Regions from separate parts of the Homo sapiens genome. Here region 1 is linked to region 2. The links come from fine-mapping of genetic effects on gene expression. A gene starts in region 2. The other region holds a variant in brackets. All regions are shown on one strand. Distances are between the middles of the regions. Region 1 overlaps SLC1A3 (solute carrier family 1 member 3). Region 2 holds the start of SLC1A3-AS1 (SLC1A3 antisense RNA 1).

The links.
Region 1: its variant is fine-mapped to the expression of SLC1A3-AS1 in lymphoblastoid cells after a statin (CAP, PIP 0.95). The same link has a PIP of 0.9 or more in lymphoblastoid cells.

Annotation. Positions count from the first base shown.
Region 1 is chr5:36,682,402-36,690,734 of GRCh38, reverse strand. It overlaps SLC1A3 (solute carrier family 1 member 3), which reads right to left. Exons shown (of 10, transcript NM_004172.5): 9 at 6,737-6,871; 10 at 2,401-4,670. The coding sequence ends at 4,466. All of the region lies in intron 1 of SLC1A3-AS1 (SLC1A3 antisense RNA 1), which reads left to right. Among named protein-coding and RNA genes, the nearest start is that of SLC1A3-AS1, 39 kb to the left of the region's middle. RefSeq lists a silencer at 441-640 and an enhancer at 1,096-1,325. The variant A/C (reference allele first, on the strand shown) is at 5,039.
Region 2 is chr5:36,720,270-36,728,605 of GRCh38, reverse strand. It overlaps SLC1A3-AS1 (SLC1A3 antisense RNA 1), which reads left to right and starts at 3,418. Exons shown (of 2, transcript XR_007058736.1): 1 at 3,418-3,492. RefSeq lists enhancers at 4,421-4,690, 4,731-4,780, 4,791-4,840.

The sequences.
Region 1 (8,333 bases), 38 kb after region 2:
GAGGCTATTGAAGAAGCAGGGTGAACAGAGGGAAAAGTGACATGGGGGCACTGAGGAATTTTAAACCTGACTTGATGGCTTTCACAGATTGCTCCCTCTCGGCACTGCAGACTTGGAATTCGATGTTACCCAAGTGAGATCTCTAAGAGGAAGTGCCCCAGCTCCCTTTAGAGCTCCCCGCGGAAGCGGCCCAAGGTGAGCTCCGCATTCCCCCTGGTGGCCACTATGAGGCTCGCTCCCCGGACGCCGCCTCGCGGATCTCGTAGATTTCTCATCTCCCGCTTTCCCTCTAGGACGCTGCCCATCACCTCCCTCGCTCTCCCTTCCTTCTTATTGTCAGCGTATTCATTCGGAGCCCTCCCTCGGCGTGACACGTCCCGACTGCTTTGGCCCCAGGACGCGGCCACACAGAGCCGGCCATTGTTGCTCCAGTTCTGGGACCACCCGGGTGGGAGAAGGGGAAGCGCGGCCGCTGCGGAGGCCGCTCGACTGACGGCAGCCTGGGGTCGGGGCCCGCGGCCACCCGGAAGGAGGGCGTGCGCCCGGCCCTGCCCAGCCCGCAGGCAGCCACAGCCCCGCAGCCCCTGCGGCGGGGATCCAGCCTTCCCGCCACGCTTCCTCCAGGCCCGTTCAGCTAACAGAACTCACACTTCTGTTTTCAACACTGTGTAGATGAGTCAAGGATTTTACTTTTTTTTCTATGCCTTTACTTATAGGTATAGTGAGGTAAAGTGAGATTTTTTCTCTTGAAAAGGAGAATTTTGCTTGGGTGGGAAGGGACAGTGGTGGTACCAGGATGAATGTGGATACAGGAGGACATAGACTCCTAACTTCTGAGGGTAGGATTTAAATATTTTGTTAAATGTAATAACTTATAAGAAACATTTTAAAAAATGTCAGCCAGAGGCTGGGTGCAGCGGCTCACTCCTGTAATCCCAGCACTTTGGGAGGCTGAGGCAGAAGGATGGCTTGAGGCCAGGAGTTTGAGACCAGCCTGAGCAACATAGCGAGATCCTGTCTCTACAAAAAATAAAAATAAAAATTAGCCTGGGCGTGGTGGTGTGAGCCTATGGTCCTAGATACTCGGGAGGCTGAGGATCGCTTGAGCCCAGGAGTTCGAGGCTGCAGTGAGCCATAATCACAGAGTGAGACCCTGTATCTTAAAAAAAAAAAAAAAAGCTGTGAACCTGCATATTTTTCATAGTTCCATTTGTGAGCACATGTGTGACTACCACATGTTGGGATCTAAGGCCTGCTTCTCCACCCTCTTTGTCATACTCTGGCTGAGAGGCACTTCCCTTAACCATAAGGGGCTTTCCACAGACCTCCCACAGGCAGATGACCTGCTTCTTATGTCTGCATTGTGGAGGTGGCCAAAACCCAGCGTGGGCTGCAGAAGGGAAGAAAATGGTCCCGGCAGAAGGGAGCACTTCCTAGCAGTGGATTGATTTTATGCGGCACTTCCCAGAACGTTTCACAGGGGGCAAATATTGATCTGCTCAGGGTGGCCAGGCTTGGTTCCCTCAGTTTGTGAGCAGCCTTTCTTTTCCCAAACTGGTCATGTAAATACCACATATGCCTTCACAAAAGTTAGGGTGTATGGTTCAAACATAGCGATTTGTAAATTTTTTTTTTTTTTTAGTCGTAAGATCTGTTAGAGAAACCGATTGAAATTAAGAATTTTACCCCCAGAAAAAGGCAAATGCACAAAACTTTCCCCACAACTTCAAGGGCGATGAACCTATTGAACTCTCATGTGGATGACCTAGGGGTCCATGGATCCAACTTAAGAGCCTTTCCTCTAGGTGGCTGCCACCTGCTGGTAGAGAGGGTCAGATTATAGGCTCCAGACACTACTTCAATCTGGAGATTTCATGATATTGCCTGCGAATTCTTTACTAAAAAGCATGATGAAAAGTAGTCATCCGTAAGCTGTTCTTAATGAATAGAGCACCAGCACAATGGCTGTTTCTGGAAATCCCTTGAGATCTTAGTTAGCTCTTTTCACAAATGGTGGTAATAATCACAGAGATAAATCTACCTAATTTGGAGGTCAGACAGGAAGTTACTTTTTCGGAAGGGCCCATGGTGGTATCACACTTTTCTAATCCCGACATGGAAATGATTCAATTCATCTGAGAAATTTGAATCTGACATGGACAAGGAAGTATGGCCTGCTACAGCAAAGTGCTCCGCTCACCTCCTCCTGTTTCCAGCTCCAGTTCTTGGAGTTGAGCAGGAGAGCATGTCCTTACTTATTTTCTTGTGGCTGGCTCTGCCAAGATTTTACCTTGCTGCATGGGATCCTTCCAGAGACTGCCCTGAGCTTATTGTAATATTTCCATGAATGGAAAATGTATTTTTCTTTGAGGAGAAGAATAACAACAACGTGCAAAGATGTTAATGTAAAACTATTTTTTTCTTTATTGAAAATACATCTACAAAGTAATGCTTCCCAGTCCACACTGAGTGCATGTGTATGCAGAGCCTGTGATGGCTTGGCGAGAGGATGGGCTCCCCACAGGACCTTTCCATAAGAAATGGTTAGTATATTAAAAAACACATATTGTGTAACAGAATTAAGTTGATATGATTAAGTCTTTGCTCTACTAGTGTCTTAAGAGGACAGCCACGTACTTTAACATTTGTAGTGTATTTCCGAAATAGAGCCTCGACATTAAATGGTTACTGCACCACAGCCTAATGTTAACTTTTATGCACAGAATGCTTGGGGTCTATATAAAAATATCTCTAATTGTATATCAGAGGATCTATGTCTAGATTTTTCAGTTTGTTAGCATAATTAAGTCCATTCTTCACCATTTTCAGCCAGAAACTCAAACACAGCTGCTACTGCCTGACAGCTCCCACTCAGCGTCTTTGACTGGATATTCCTTAGGGGGTAAAAATTAATCTCTAAACCTGGGAGCTGCCTTGCCTGAAACTAATGCCCCTGCTGTTTTTTTCTCATAACCTCATTGACAGTGTCTTCATACTGATTCATCTTCTACCATTTCTCTTATGGACACAAACAAAACAAAAGCAAACCCCACTCCAGCTGAAAGTTTTGAATGATTTGATAAGTGGGATTCCAAAACAAATAAATATTTTGTTTCCCTCATTCTAAGGACTTTTGATTAAAGAAAAACACTTTCAAATAAGAAATACCCACTCAACTCATGGACTTCTATTAGAGAGCTCATTCATTTGACTTCTTTCAAATATATAAGTCGTCTTATGTTTTGGTAAGCAGACTTCACGGGGGGAATGATTTTGGACTCGAGAAAAAGTGTTTCAGGTGAAAAAAAAAGCCAGAAAAATGAACCTCTTCTTTTTTATTCTTCCTTAAAGAAGACCTGTACTCTTGGTGTTTTCAAATCCTTTGTTTGTAATGTTGCCTGTGCTCAACTCTTTCCTAGCTCTTTAGTGTTCCACAGTGTGACCACAAGCACCCTTGCTAGCTGCTAGTCTTCTCATCTGTTTTCGAAGTCTATCATCAGTTGAGGAGTGGCAGGAGACATTCTTCCCAGAGTAGGAAAGAAGGGAATACTTCCCCCATTGGGATGAACTGGGCAAAGAGTTTGATGAATAATCCCACTCCTGGAATGGCCTCCTGCCTGGCGACTTGCATAACCTGCACTTTGCTCACAGGACCTGGTGACCACCACACACAGCCATCCTGTCCTTAGTTAGAAATGTTCACTCCCATTGAAGTGTCTTTTCTGAAGGCCTCGTGCTCCATGGATGGTACAGGGTGTTCTGAGGGGAAACAGAGGGCAGGTGCTTTCATGACATCACAGGATGTCTGGGCTGGAAGAGACCATGAAGACTTCTAGGGAAGTCCCTCATTTTATAGATGAGGACACTGAGGCCTAGAGGTGAGATGGGACTTGCTCAAGGCCACATGGAAACTTTGCCTTCTGTCTGTCCTCACAGCTGTGCTAGATGTATATGTGCACCTAGCTACTAATGAAATAGGTATACCAGTCAGAAGAGAAAGGGATAAAATCTTACTGTCCAACTGATAACCGGTTGTAATTCAAGTTGTTAACATTTTGAAACTAAAACTGAATTGTATTCTGAAAGATTTTTAAATTTCAAAAGTTGATTTTAAAATGTTTTTAGCCTACTATTTGTCTCTTTAACTTATATAAAAAAATCACATTTATAGGATTGTGTGCCACATAAACTTGTAAGATCTGATCAACACTATTTGTGATCTTGGTACCTTATTCGGTAAGACTAACATGAAATGATTTAAAAATTTCAATTGTGGGATGAAAATTGTACACTTTGGCCACCCAAAATCCTCCCTTGTGTTTTGGAGGACTATTTTCCAGTCTTATCAGAAGGGAGGAAAGGGAAGATGACGGGCTTGCTGGAGCGAATGAGCTGTAATGAGATGGAAAGATTTTATAATGGTTTTTAACACCTGGTGCTCAAGAAAGTGTTTCTTTATGTTAGTCTACATCTTGGTTTCACTGTCGATGGGTTTCTCAGTTTCATTGTCCTGTGCAATCAGTTGATATGGTTTCTTCATTTCATTCTCTTCAATCACTGAGTTACCCATTTCAACATCTCTGTTCTTCAGTTCATGTCGTGACAAGTGCTCCACAATCCCAGCTCCCAGGGAGTCTCCCAGTACGTTGGTGGTGGTCCGGAGGCGATCCCTGCAGGCAGGGTGGGGAGGAGGGAAAAACGAGGCTCCCGTGAGCATCACAAGTTTTCAACTTACGTTAGGAACTGGCCAGCGAAGCACCTCTTAACATTCAGTTCGCCGTATCTACCAACTGCAAGATTACGTAATAGACACATAATATTCATAATAGTAGCTATTAAAGGTTATAAGGCCATATAGATGATGAATGTTCAGTTATTAGTTTGACTGAAGTGAGAGTCCCAACAGTGGGGAACGAGCCTTCTCTTTAAGCCATTCTCATAATAATACTAAGATGTCATTTGTCCCTCTCAGTCTCATTTTCTCATGAATGTATAGTGGAGTTTTGCAAAGACTACATGATGTGTGATGTCACAACTC[A/C]CTGAAGCAGTTGTGAAACTGCAGAAACAGGAAACTCCAACTGTCTTGTATTAAGCCAGACATTAAGAAAACTTGCAAAACATAAAATAGTACCATTCTTTTCACTAAATATTGGGGTCGAGGCCGGGCACCGTGGCTCACACCTGTAATCTCAGCACTTTGGGAGGCCAAGGCAGGTGGTTCACCTGAGGTCAGGAGTTCGAGACCAGCCTGGCCAACATGGTGAAACCCGTCTCTACTAAAAATACAAAAATTAGCCAGGCGTGGTGGCGGGCGCCTCTAATCCCAGCTACTCAGGAGGCTGAGGCAGGAGAATCACTTGAACCCAGGAGGCGGAGGTTGCAGTGAGCCAAGACTGTGCCATTGCACTCTAGCCTGGGCAACAGGAATGGAACTCCATCTCAAAACAAGTAAATAAATAAAATAAATTTTGGGGTCGAAATGGTTGTTTTTTGCAAAAAAATGCTATTTATGTTAGCATATATAACCTTTTTGTTTAAAGATGATAATAAATTCATTCCATTATTTTATTTTATGAATTATTATCACCTTTAAATAAAACATGTAATAAATTAACAAGTGGAAATTTATAAGTGTGTCTAATATGATAAATATGAATAGATACAACCCATATAGATCAAATGCTGTTTCAGTTCTCAATAATTTTGAAGTGTAAAGATCAAAGACTGTGGAGAACTGTAGCTTTATATGAGAGTGCTCATGTTAACTGATGCTGACTGTGGGCCAGACAGTAGGCTGCATGCTTTCTAGGCATCATTGCACTGAATCTTGCAGTACCCCTAGGAGGTAGAGGACACGGGCACCCTCATTTTACAGAGGTAGAAACTAGGGTGGTTGGGTAATCTGCCCGGTCTCACACAAGGTCAGGACACAAACACAGGTCCAAGTAACTGGGGAGTGAATCCTCTCGCCCAGTCTGGGGTTTCACGCACACTGTCAAGCTCTTTTCATGTTGCAGTTCTAGTGAACATATGTTGTGTTAACTCCAACACGTACTCTGTTCTAGGCTTTGCTTTGGGCATCCTGGGGAAAGATTTTCAAAAGTGGAAGGAAATTTTTAAGAGAAAAGGCACAGAGAATGCCAGCTGGAAGAGCGAGGGAAGGGGGCGAAGGGATGGGCCTGTAGAGGTTAGAGTTTGAGAATGTGGAGGGCACATTTCTTGTAACTTTCCCTAGATCCGAAACTCAATTCCACTTAATGACACTAGCTCTCTTCCCAGTGTCGGCATAGCTCAGCCTCACCCTATTGGGCTAGGATGGGAAAATCATTCCCACTGGAATGGGAAGCACACAGAGGCAGGGCCTAAGCTGGCATGTGGGGCCTGCAGCTTTGTTCCAGCTGCTGTGGTGTCATGTTGTGCAACTCAGAAACAGCCTTGCTGATTTATGTTGCCTTTGCAGACAGCGGGTTTCCCAATTCCTGAATGGCTTTATGGAGTGAGATGTGTGGCAGCCAGATGTGCCCCTTAGGCTGACAGGGGAGTGAGTGCACATGGCATCTGGGGCTCGGTCTCCAGATAAGGACCAGGGGTCAGACAATAAGGACAATTTAACTATGGGCCGAGAGGCCCCTCTCCTCAGAGTTCTTTCTGTAGATGTGCCAGGCTGCCTGGTGCCCTAGAGTGACAGAGGGGGACCCTGTGACAGTGAGCTGGAATGCAGGCCAAGCATACTCACAGGAACCAGTCCACCGCGATGATGAGCGTGATGTCGTCAGTGGGCAGGCCGACAGATGTCAGCACAATGACCATAGTGACCAGGCCCGCCTGAGGAATTCCAGCTGCCCCAATACTGGCAGCTGTGGCTGTGATGCTGTTAACAGAAGTACCAGAACAGAAAACACTTTTACAAAGCTCCCCACGTAGAGCATATACGCTGCAAAATACGCACGGTGCCGATGCCTGACTTGCCATGTAACACAAGAGGACGCGCTTCAGAAAAAACGTAAATGAGATTTTTTTTTTTTTTGAAACAGTATCTCACTCTGTTGCCCAGGCTGGAGTGCAGTGGTGCAAACTAGGCTCACTGAAACCTCTTCCTCCTGGGTTCAAGTGATTCTCGTGCCTCAGTCCCCTGAGTAGCTGGGAATACAGCTTCATGCCCCCACACTCGACTAATATTCGTGTTTTTAGTAGAGCAGGATTTCACCATGTTAGCCAGGTTAGTCTCGAACTCTTGACCTCAAGTGATCCACCCACCTTGGCCTCCCAAAGTGCTGGGATTACCGGCATGAGCCATCATGCCTGGCCCGTAAATGAGATTAAAAAAAAAAAAATTGAACTAATCATCATGCTAACTAATATTTATCATGTGCTTACTATGTGTCTTCTGATATACTAAGCATGGTTTATCTAATTTGGTCCTCGTACAATGACCCTTGTGAAGTTGGACCTATTATTCTAGTCGTTTTTAAATAAACTGGCAGCTATACACTTTTAAACATCCCTGAAAGTATTTTGTAAGGCAAAGTCTAAAATGCTGTAGAGTTACAATAATAATTTGTTTCTAGTAATTCCCCTATCCAAGTGGAGGGTTGTAAAGTTACTGAACATTCATGATTAATGTTGTCAAAAGAATCAAATTTGGTTTCTTAGTTTGGTTTGCTTAGTTAATTCAAAAGCAAAATGATTTATGAACAAAGTTTTATAGTATTAGAAATACTTTTTATGAAGGCAGTGTAGACCTGGCTTGCAAAGCAAATGTTTTATAAATAGTAAAGTATTATCTGGTTATAAGTGGTATTAATAAAGTATTAAGTCTGTCACAGAAAGTATTCATGGTCCCCATACTGGTCCCCTTCTAAGATACTGGGACTTTTAGCTGGTATATGGCTCCCCAGAATGAAGACTACACTTCCCAACCTCCCTTGAAGCTTAGATTAAGTTCTGGCCAGTCAGACATGCATGGAGGTACTGAGCAACTTGCAGGGTATACCATCTCCCCACTTCCGACTGACTAAAATCTGGGGGTGGTGAGTCATCCCGGACCACCTGGATAATGATAATACCCTAGAGACTTAGTCTCTTATACCACAGAGCACCTATCAATCAGCCTTGAAGGCTTTGTGGAGCAGAGCTGTGCTGCATGAAAGAGAAATATATTTCTATCTTGCTTGTCACTGTTACTGTTATTTTTAACTCTGTCACCTTTTTTTTTTAATAACCCAGAGCCTTTCAATCAATATGCCAAAGTATAGGTTACAGGTGAGCTGAGATAATGATCTCCTAAGTCCCATTATAACTACTTTGGGCCTGAGGTTCCCAGAACCCCCAGG
Region 2 (8,336 bases):
CATATGTTTCTGAGGAGATTATCATTGACATTTCCATATTTTCCCTCAGTTTCTCAAATGTGCCATCTAATTCTGCAGCCCACAGATTATTCTGAATGATGTTCTTCCAAAAGGGCTTATCTGAGTAGGTGCTATGGGCCAGCCTGTTTCATCTTCATGACAATCCTTCGAGGTATGATTTTAGCCACATTTTTCTACAAGAAGGGGACTCTGAGAATTTAAGGTAACTTGCCATCCAGCTGCTCCGTGGCAGAACTGGGATTCAACCTCGAGTCTCTGACCTCACGGTTAAAGACCTTGACTTCTTGCTGTGGACGACTGCAAATGCTGGGTCACGTTCACGTTCAGCTTGAATCTCAAACAGAAACGATGAGATGGGCTGTGTTACGTTCCCTCAAGTGAGAGTCGCAGTGGGGCTAATGTGTTTGTGTGAATAAGGATTCTTCACTGACGTGTGGCAATATCACTCTACAAAGCCATGGGAAACAAAGCTCTGCTTTCCCCCTACGTTGGCACTGGTGGCCTGTACTTACGGCAGTGAGATTTGCATACAGCCACATCTGTCCAGCCTGGTACAGAGCCCTTAAACAACAGGAGCCCGTCCTCTGGCACAAGTTCAGATTCCCAAGGAGACTGCCCTCATACCACTAGACCCAACCCAAACTTGCGCCTCACTAGGTATTGCCCTTGGCCCCTGACTTTTTTTTTTTTTGAGACAGAGTCTCACTCTGTCGCCCAGGCTGGATTGCAGTGGCGCGATTTCGGCTCACTGCAAGCTCCGCCTCGCGGGTTCACGCCATTCTCCTGCCTCAGCCTCTCCGAATAGCTGGGACTACAGGTGCCCTCCATCACTCCCGGCTAATTTTTTTTTGGTATTTTTAATAGAGACGGGGTTTCACCGTGTTAGCCAGAATGGTCTCGATCTCCTGACCTCGTGATCCGCCCGCCTCATCCTCCCAAAGTGCTGGGATTACAGGTGTGAGCCACCGCCCCCGGCCAAGGCCCCTGATTTCTTACTCATTTGCTCATTATGTGCTAGCCTGTCCCTAAGATTTGGTACATTTTGCTACTGTTCTGACTAGTGACGTTAGCTCTCAGTGGAAATTCAGCCTCCCTTACTTGGATAAAGTACTTTGTAAAAAAATTTTGCGAAACCAATTTTTTCACTCACTGATACGCTGTTCTTAGGAGGGTAAGTAGACTCTGGAGGGCACTTTCTCAGGGAAGGAATGAGGGTCTCAGGCTCTGTGGGGAAGAAAGGCATGCAGAGGTGGCAGCTGCAGATGGCCTGACGGGTGGGAAATTTTGCCTCTTCTGGTTTCTGGTCACCCCAGCTTCTTGAAAGACTGAATTGAGGAGTGTGGGTGTTGGAGTGGGGTGAATGGGATAGGAATAGCTCTATGAGCAGCTGAAGCTACTCCGTTGGTACCATCGGGACCATACTGTTCTTTTCATTTGGAATCCTGAAAATGGTGCATATATAAAGACCTTGAGGGCTTAGCAGGTGTTGGGGAAACCACCACATTACTGATCCTTCAAGAGACCAAGACATAAAAATAGTGCCTCTTATTTCTGGCCTTTTGGCTACTGTTACTTCTGTGTCATTGTCTCTTATTACCCTCACTTCTAGCCACACCAGTCTTATCACTGTTCCTTGGATGGGCCTCAGGGCCTTTGCACTGGCTGTTCTCTCTGCTTGGACCACTCTTCCTCAAGATAGCCACATGCCTCACTCCCTCACCTCCTGCACTCTGCTCAAAAGTCAACTTCGTAGGGAGTCCTGACTTGACCACCCTAATTTAAATTGCACTTCTGATTTCACTTACTTTGCTTTTTCTCTCCATAGTGATCACCTCTTAACATATTACAAAATTTTCTTAATTTTTTAATGTTTATTGCCTATCTCCTGTTTCACGCTCCTTCTTGCATCCCTGAATGTAAACTCTGAGAATAGTGAGGTATTTTTTGTCCTTTTTGTTCAATAACAAACACTCAGTGCCTAGAATAATGCCTTACAGGAGTGCTTTATAAGCATTTGTTGAATGAATGAATGAACTAATGAATGAAGTGTAATACAAGGGGCAAAGGATTTGGCATCCTTTGGTCATGGAGTGCTGCTCAGATATGTACTATAGAAACCATTCTGAAGCATTTCAAAAGACATCCAGTTTCTCCTCTGTATACTGCAAAATCTTGGGCTTAGGTTCTGGCATTTAGTCTATGACAAATGATTGCTGGCAAAAGTTGAATGAAGCAGTTAAGAGTATGGGTTTGCAGTAAGATCCAGGTTCAAATTTACACCTTTCCATGTACTACCTGTGTGACTTTGGTGAAATTATCTTCTCCAGGCCTTAGGGTGAAATGTATGTGAGAATGCATGAAGCCTGCCACGTGGTTAATATTAAGAGTGATAACTCATATTATCATTGATGGAGGTGAATGAAAGAAATGGAGTAACACGCTTTTAAAACACAGTTTCCCCTCCATTATCATTTCAACCACTTTAGATGAAAATATTGAGGGATACATCCACAATTTCTAGTTAATTAAAAAATATCAGGAGGTCTTAGTAGATTCTAGATTTTTCCTTCAATGAAATGAGTTGTTAAATAAAAGGCCTCCATAAGTACAGGGTCTTGTCGTTGGGCTCTATCTTATGAGCGGTGGATCTGCCTCCCAGGAAGGTAGGCAGACACCAGTGAGGCATCTGGTGCTTGGGATGCAGCGAGTGGAGCCAAGCAGAGAATGATCAGATCCGTTTGCCTGGAATTTCTGCATTTGCTGCCCCAAACATCTGGAGCCAGGCTACCCAGTGCAGATGGAAAATAGCAAAATGCAAATTCCCTGGGTTCAGCTGAGGGAAGCCAAGGCAGACAGAGTCTGAGAAGGCGGATGAAAGGTGAGCCAAAACAAAAGCCCTGGCGGGTGGTGGGGCAGCGTTTTATCTAGAGCCTACGGCCCCCGGTAAGGACAGGAGATGAGAGAAGGGACCTTAGAGCTACTTGGGCCACCTTCATGTTCGTACTCATCCCCCTCCTTAACAGCCTGAAAGGGAGCCTGCTGGGCTTACGGCAGCCTCCCTGTCCTCTTCCTGATGCCATGCCTGCTCCATTGCTTTGCTTCTTCTGGATCCTGTTTCGCCCTCTCCCTCAAGAAGGAGATCCTGAAATAGATCCTGAGTCAATGACTCAGGTGCAAGTGCTTTATTAAAGAAAGGCTCCCAGAAGAAATCTACTTGCACCCGAATCATTGACTCAGGATCTCCTTCTGGGAGAATCCAAGCCAAGACAAGACAGACAACCCAACCAACTGAGCTGCTCACAGCTTCAACTGCTACAACCCTGGAAAGGATTCTGATTGGCTAGCTAAGGGTCACATGCCCAAATGGGCCTTTGATTGGCAGCTGTTGCTTCCTTCCTACTCCCTCCCACACACCCAGGAGCTCCAGCCTGTTATGGGATGGGCATCCTACCAGGAACCAAGGATGCTAAGGTAAGCAGTCCTTGCCCTCATAGGTTTACTTATACTTAAGGGGAGAGAACCGTTAGTCAAATCACCCCACATACAGATCTTTACACACTATGAAGGACAAGCACAGGGTGCAGTCAGTGGGAGGGGCCCAGAACGGGAAGTGCCATGCTGGCTGCTGCTGTGTGGAATGGGCTGTAAAGAGAGCAAGAGTGAAAGCCACAGCAGGGGAGCTGGTCAGAGATGGCAGTGGCTTTATTAGAGTGGTGGCCCTGGAGTTGGAGACAGGTGGGAAAAACTCAAGAGCCCTCTAAGGAACCGACCCATGGCAGTCCATCGCCACCAAGTCCCTCTTACCACTCTAGGTTTAAAGAAACCCAAAAAACAAAACTACGTTGCAACTGCACTGCTACACCAGGAAACCTAAGGGGGAACAAAAGAAAACTTAGTAGTGCCCTCTAGGCTGAAGATTTGACCTATTATTTACTAACCTTTCCCTCCCTCTTCCTTATTTTCAACAAATCTCCTGCCATCCATTTTGAATTCTTCTCTAAATAGAGAAAGCTTTCTTTCTCAGCTTCATTTAAATGTCCACCATGGTATTTACCCATGTTTTCTTGATTTTTATTTCTTTTTGGGGCGGGTATCTAAAAGATAATCTGATCCCTGTTCCTGATTCTGTAGGTGACAGAGAGAAGTGGTTTTCTCATTTTTTTGTGTGTGAAATTATTCGCATATGAGGAAAAGATAGCTCAAAAATAGAAGCTCTTTCATTATCTCTCCACAATGTAGTGTGGCCCCAAGTGACTATTTTGTGGAGACACGGTAATTTGGGGTGGCTAAATCATTACCCCGAGGTGTGTCAGATGCTGCCAAGACCTCCTTCATTCATGTGGCCAAGACTGTGGGCTTCCTGGCTGGGGAGGCAGAGGCCCTGCTCTTCTGCTGCTAACCTTGGGGTCAGCGAGCCCTGATCCACACTTCCTCTGGGCAACATCAATGGGGCTGCTGAACATATTGAGCCAGACTTGTTTCCAAGAGATAGAAGGAACTAGAGCATTGGGGAAAGTCCCAAGTAACTCTAGCCCTCAGCCACCTGCTGTGGCTGAAGATGAAGTCTCTGCAGCTTCAAGAATCCAACTGGCTGGTGCACATTGTTCTCATTGGCTAGATCATTCCTCCATGTAGCACTTCACTAAACTCATTAACAAATATTTACAAATGACATTGCTTTTTGGGGTCATGTATATTTCAGTCTTCAGAATCCATCAGGCACTCAAATCCCTTGGCAGTTCTAGTTCTCTCCCCTAGACATGCCTCTGCCCCCTACTACTCAGTTCCTTTTATTTCTACCATTCGTTTTTATTTTCTATTTCATTTCTTTACTTTTTAGAGACAAGGTCTCTGTCACCCAGGTTGGAGTGCAGTGGCATGATCATAGCTCACTGCAGCCTCAAACCCTTGGACTCAAGTGATCCTCCTGCCTCGGCCTCCTGAGTAGCTGAGACTACAGGTGTGTTCCACCACATCTGGCTAACTTTTGTATTTTTTGTCAAGATGGGGGTCTTGCTATGTTGCCCAGGCTGATTTCAAACTCCTGACCTCAAGCTGTCCTCCAGCCATGGCCTCCCAAAGTGCTGCCTACCATTATAGGCTGCCATGCCTGGCCCTTATTTTTTTTAAAAAATGATCTTCTCCCTTCTATGTAATTCCTATTCTACCTGTATTATTCTTCTTTCCCTGTATTATGCTCGTCCCTTGCTCTTCTTCTCCTCTCCCTTTCATTTTAACCACTCTTCCATCTCCTGCTACTGCATGTGAATCAGATTTGCCCTCCAAATACCGTGTGTATCACCATCAGTTCAGTGGCAGAGGCTGTTCTTGCGCTGGCTTGGAAGATGACAGTTCCCAAAGTATTCCCCATAGAGGCTGATCGGTCTGACCCAGCTAATGCTACCAGTTAAAATAATCCTGGCTCAGGGCCCATGAGACTCACCAGTCCTTATGTGGTATTGGAAAGTGAAACTGATTTGGCAGCCTCATTAGATTATAATCAGCTCGAATCTTCCCTTCTGCCTTCTCAGAGCATCACATGTGTCCCCAGGAACAGCAGAGGGGAAAAACCACCTCTCCTCGCCCGCTTTCTGTATTTCTTCTAAGGTTCTTAGTTCAAATTAAATCTTTACTCTGTGAGAGCAGAGAATGACTCATTGGCCACCATGACTATCACCTTAAGTGGGCTTCTAATTTGTTTTAGAAGCTACTAGCGACCCCTAGGATAGCATCTACAATTTCAAGAGTGTAGTTTCAGAGTACTGACTGTATGCACCAATAGATGCCGGGCTGAGAAGTTGGGACCACATTCGGTAACAAGAGTGATAATAGCTACCAGTTCCTGGTTGCTTAGACACTTCTGTATTAACTTGTTTAATCCTCGGATCAATCCTATGGGGTATTTACTATCTTATCTTATTTTAGGAGGTGGACGCTGAAGCACAGAGAGGTTAAGTAACTTGCCTAAAGTAACAGAGTTAATAAGTGGCAGAACCAGGATTGGAGCTCCAGGAGACTGGCTCCAGAATCTGTGCTATTAATAGTTCCTTGCATCATAATCTGTAGGTTATGAGAACTACAGAAGGTTGGTACCTAAGCTTGGCACAAAGACAATGATACTTAGGGATAGTCATTTGGAAGGAGAGAGATAGAATAATTGATGGGAAAGTCAAGGAATCCAGTAACAGAGTCTCTGGTAATAATCTTGGTATGTGAATTAGGGTGGAATCTGCGAATGTGGAAAGCTATAGACATGAGAGATGACGTGAAGGAAACATTTGGACTAATGTGGGACATAGAGGGGGAGAGCATGGTGGGAGCGTTCCACCTGAGAGAATGGTGGGACCAGGGTCAGAAGGAGGGGTGACAGAAAGTGCCTCTGACTTGTGTGTAACCCTGAGATTTTAGGCTGATAAGGTTTCAAAGACTCTGGCTCCCCTACACTTCCTTACCCAACACTGTGTCCCCAGAAGGAGGGATGCTGCTGTGGATTAGTTACACTCCATGAGGCCAGCAGGCTTGAGGGCTAGAGGGTGGGGCTTTTGCTGGAAGAAGCAGAGAGATTGGAAAGAAACACCCTGTATCCCTCGTCTTCTCCATGTGTACTTTCTTAGCGTCTTCCTTTGCGTATGCTAGATCATGGGACGTCTGGTCCAGGGCACCTCTGGGCCTGATTATCCCCCAACTTCCTTGGATGACCTTTTGGCTGGGGCAAGGGGAAAGAAGCGTGGAAAGGTATCTTAGGGGACACACATGCTCACATTTTCACACAACCTCATACTTCCTCTTCTGGAGAGAAAATAGCAAGATGAGCCCATCAGGAACATGGTGGGGCCTGGGAGTAATTAGCCAGGTAACAGGATATTCCACCTGCCTTCACTCTAGCTCTGGTGCTCAGAGGAAAAGGGGGCCTCCCAAGCTCCCCAGGGTGGGGCTACAAGTTTGGGACTGAAACTCCAGCCTGTGCTGACCATGCATTTTCCCTTAAGTCATGTCCTCCTCTGTGCCTGGAGCAGAGGTCATCAATGGGGTGAGATTTAGGGACCCAGAATCCACCTTTCTCAACCATGATAATATTTCTTTTGTCTACCCAAACTTAAATTCCCTTCTCTAGTTCTTTAGTGTCCTAATCTGCTTATGTTTTCTTATTTCAAAAAGATACTCAGCAGTGATAAATATCCTTGAAGTATTTGGTGCACAAAGCTAAAAGGAGCTATAAAAATAAAGACACCTCCTCCCTCAGGTATTTTGGTGCCGATAAAATGATGATATCTGAAGCCCTGGTTATGAAGAGCTCTTATTTCCGATAAACAAATAAAAACCAAGGGCTATATGAATATTAATAATTTGGAGATGCAGGTGGAGGTATTGCTATTCTTGAACAACATATGTTCATACTTCATCACTTTAATTAACAAAGTCCCTTTTCTTGTAATTTTAGCAGGAGGTATCCCAGGGTAAGAGAACAAGACCTGGATTTATGTGAATAGGATTTTTTATTTCATCACTGAATCCAAATAGCATTTTCCTAGTGTGAAAACAGATGGCAGAGACTTTATTTGTGGTCAAAAGCATTATGTCTGAGAGTGAACCTTTCTTTGGCAGGCGGATTTGCATAAATTCAGGAAGTGATTTAAGACATGATATGTCTCCTAGAACCAAATCCATAGCAGGTACTTTTATTAACAAAATTTATACACTCAAACACAGTGACTCAGAGAAGCTAATTTTCATTTTGGCAAATCATGATTTTTTTTTTTTTTTTTTGCTGTCAACTATATATGTGAAGATTAGAAGTATCTCACGAAACTGTCTGTGAGTCAGCATTTGCATGTTTCTCACGCCCTCGCTGAAGAATTTCTTCTGATTTGGTTTTTAAGACCTCTGTGTGTTTGACAGAAATTACTTGGGGGAAGTAATCAAATCTTGGCTTGCTGTTTACCTTAGTAGATACCAAATTATAATTTTGGTATCTTCAACAATGAAAAGTTTAAATAAGACACTGTCCTTAAATGATGTTTGAAACCATAAATTACTTTGCAAACATAAGGAGTTATTATTATTTATACAACATACAGCTTTTATACGAAGCCAAATTTCTCCTACATTCTCAATGGAAATTAGAAAATTAGGTTAACTCTTCCTTGCTTCCAGAGTAAAATTGGATAACCGTGGTTTTGGAACCAAAATGGGGTACCTGCTGGGAAGTTTCTGAGAGCCAAACACAGATGTGGAAAATAGCTGGAAGGCATGATGTGTTTACAGTGACTTACTGTCATAGTCTATTTTTGGGTCAATTTCCTTCTCATAGTCCA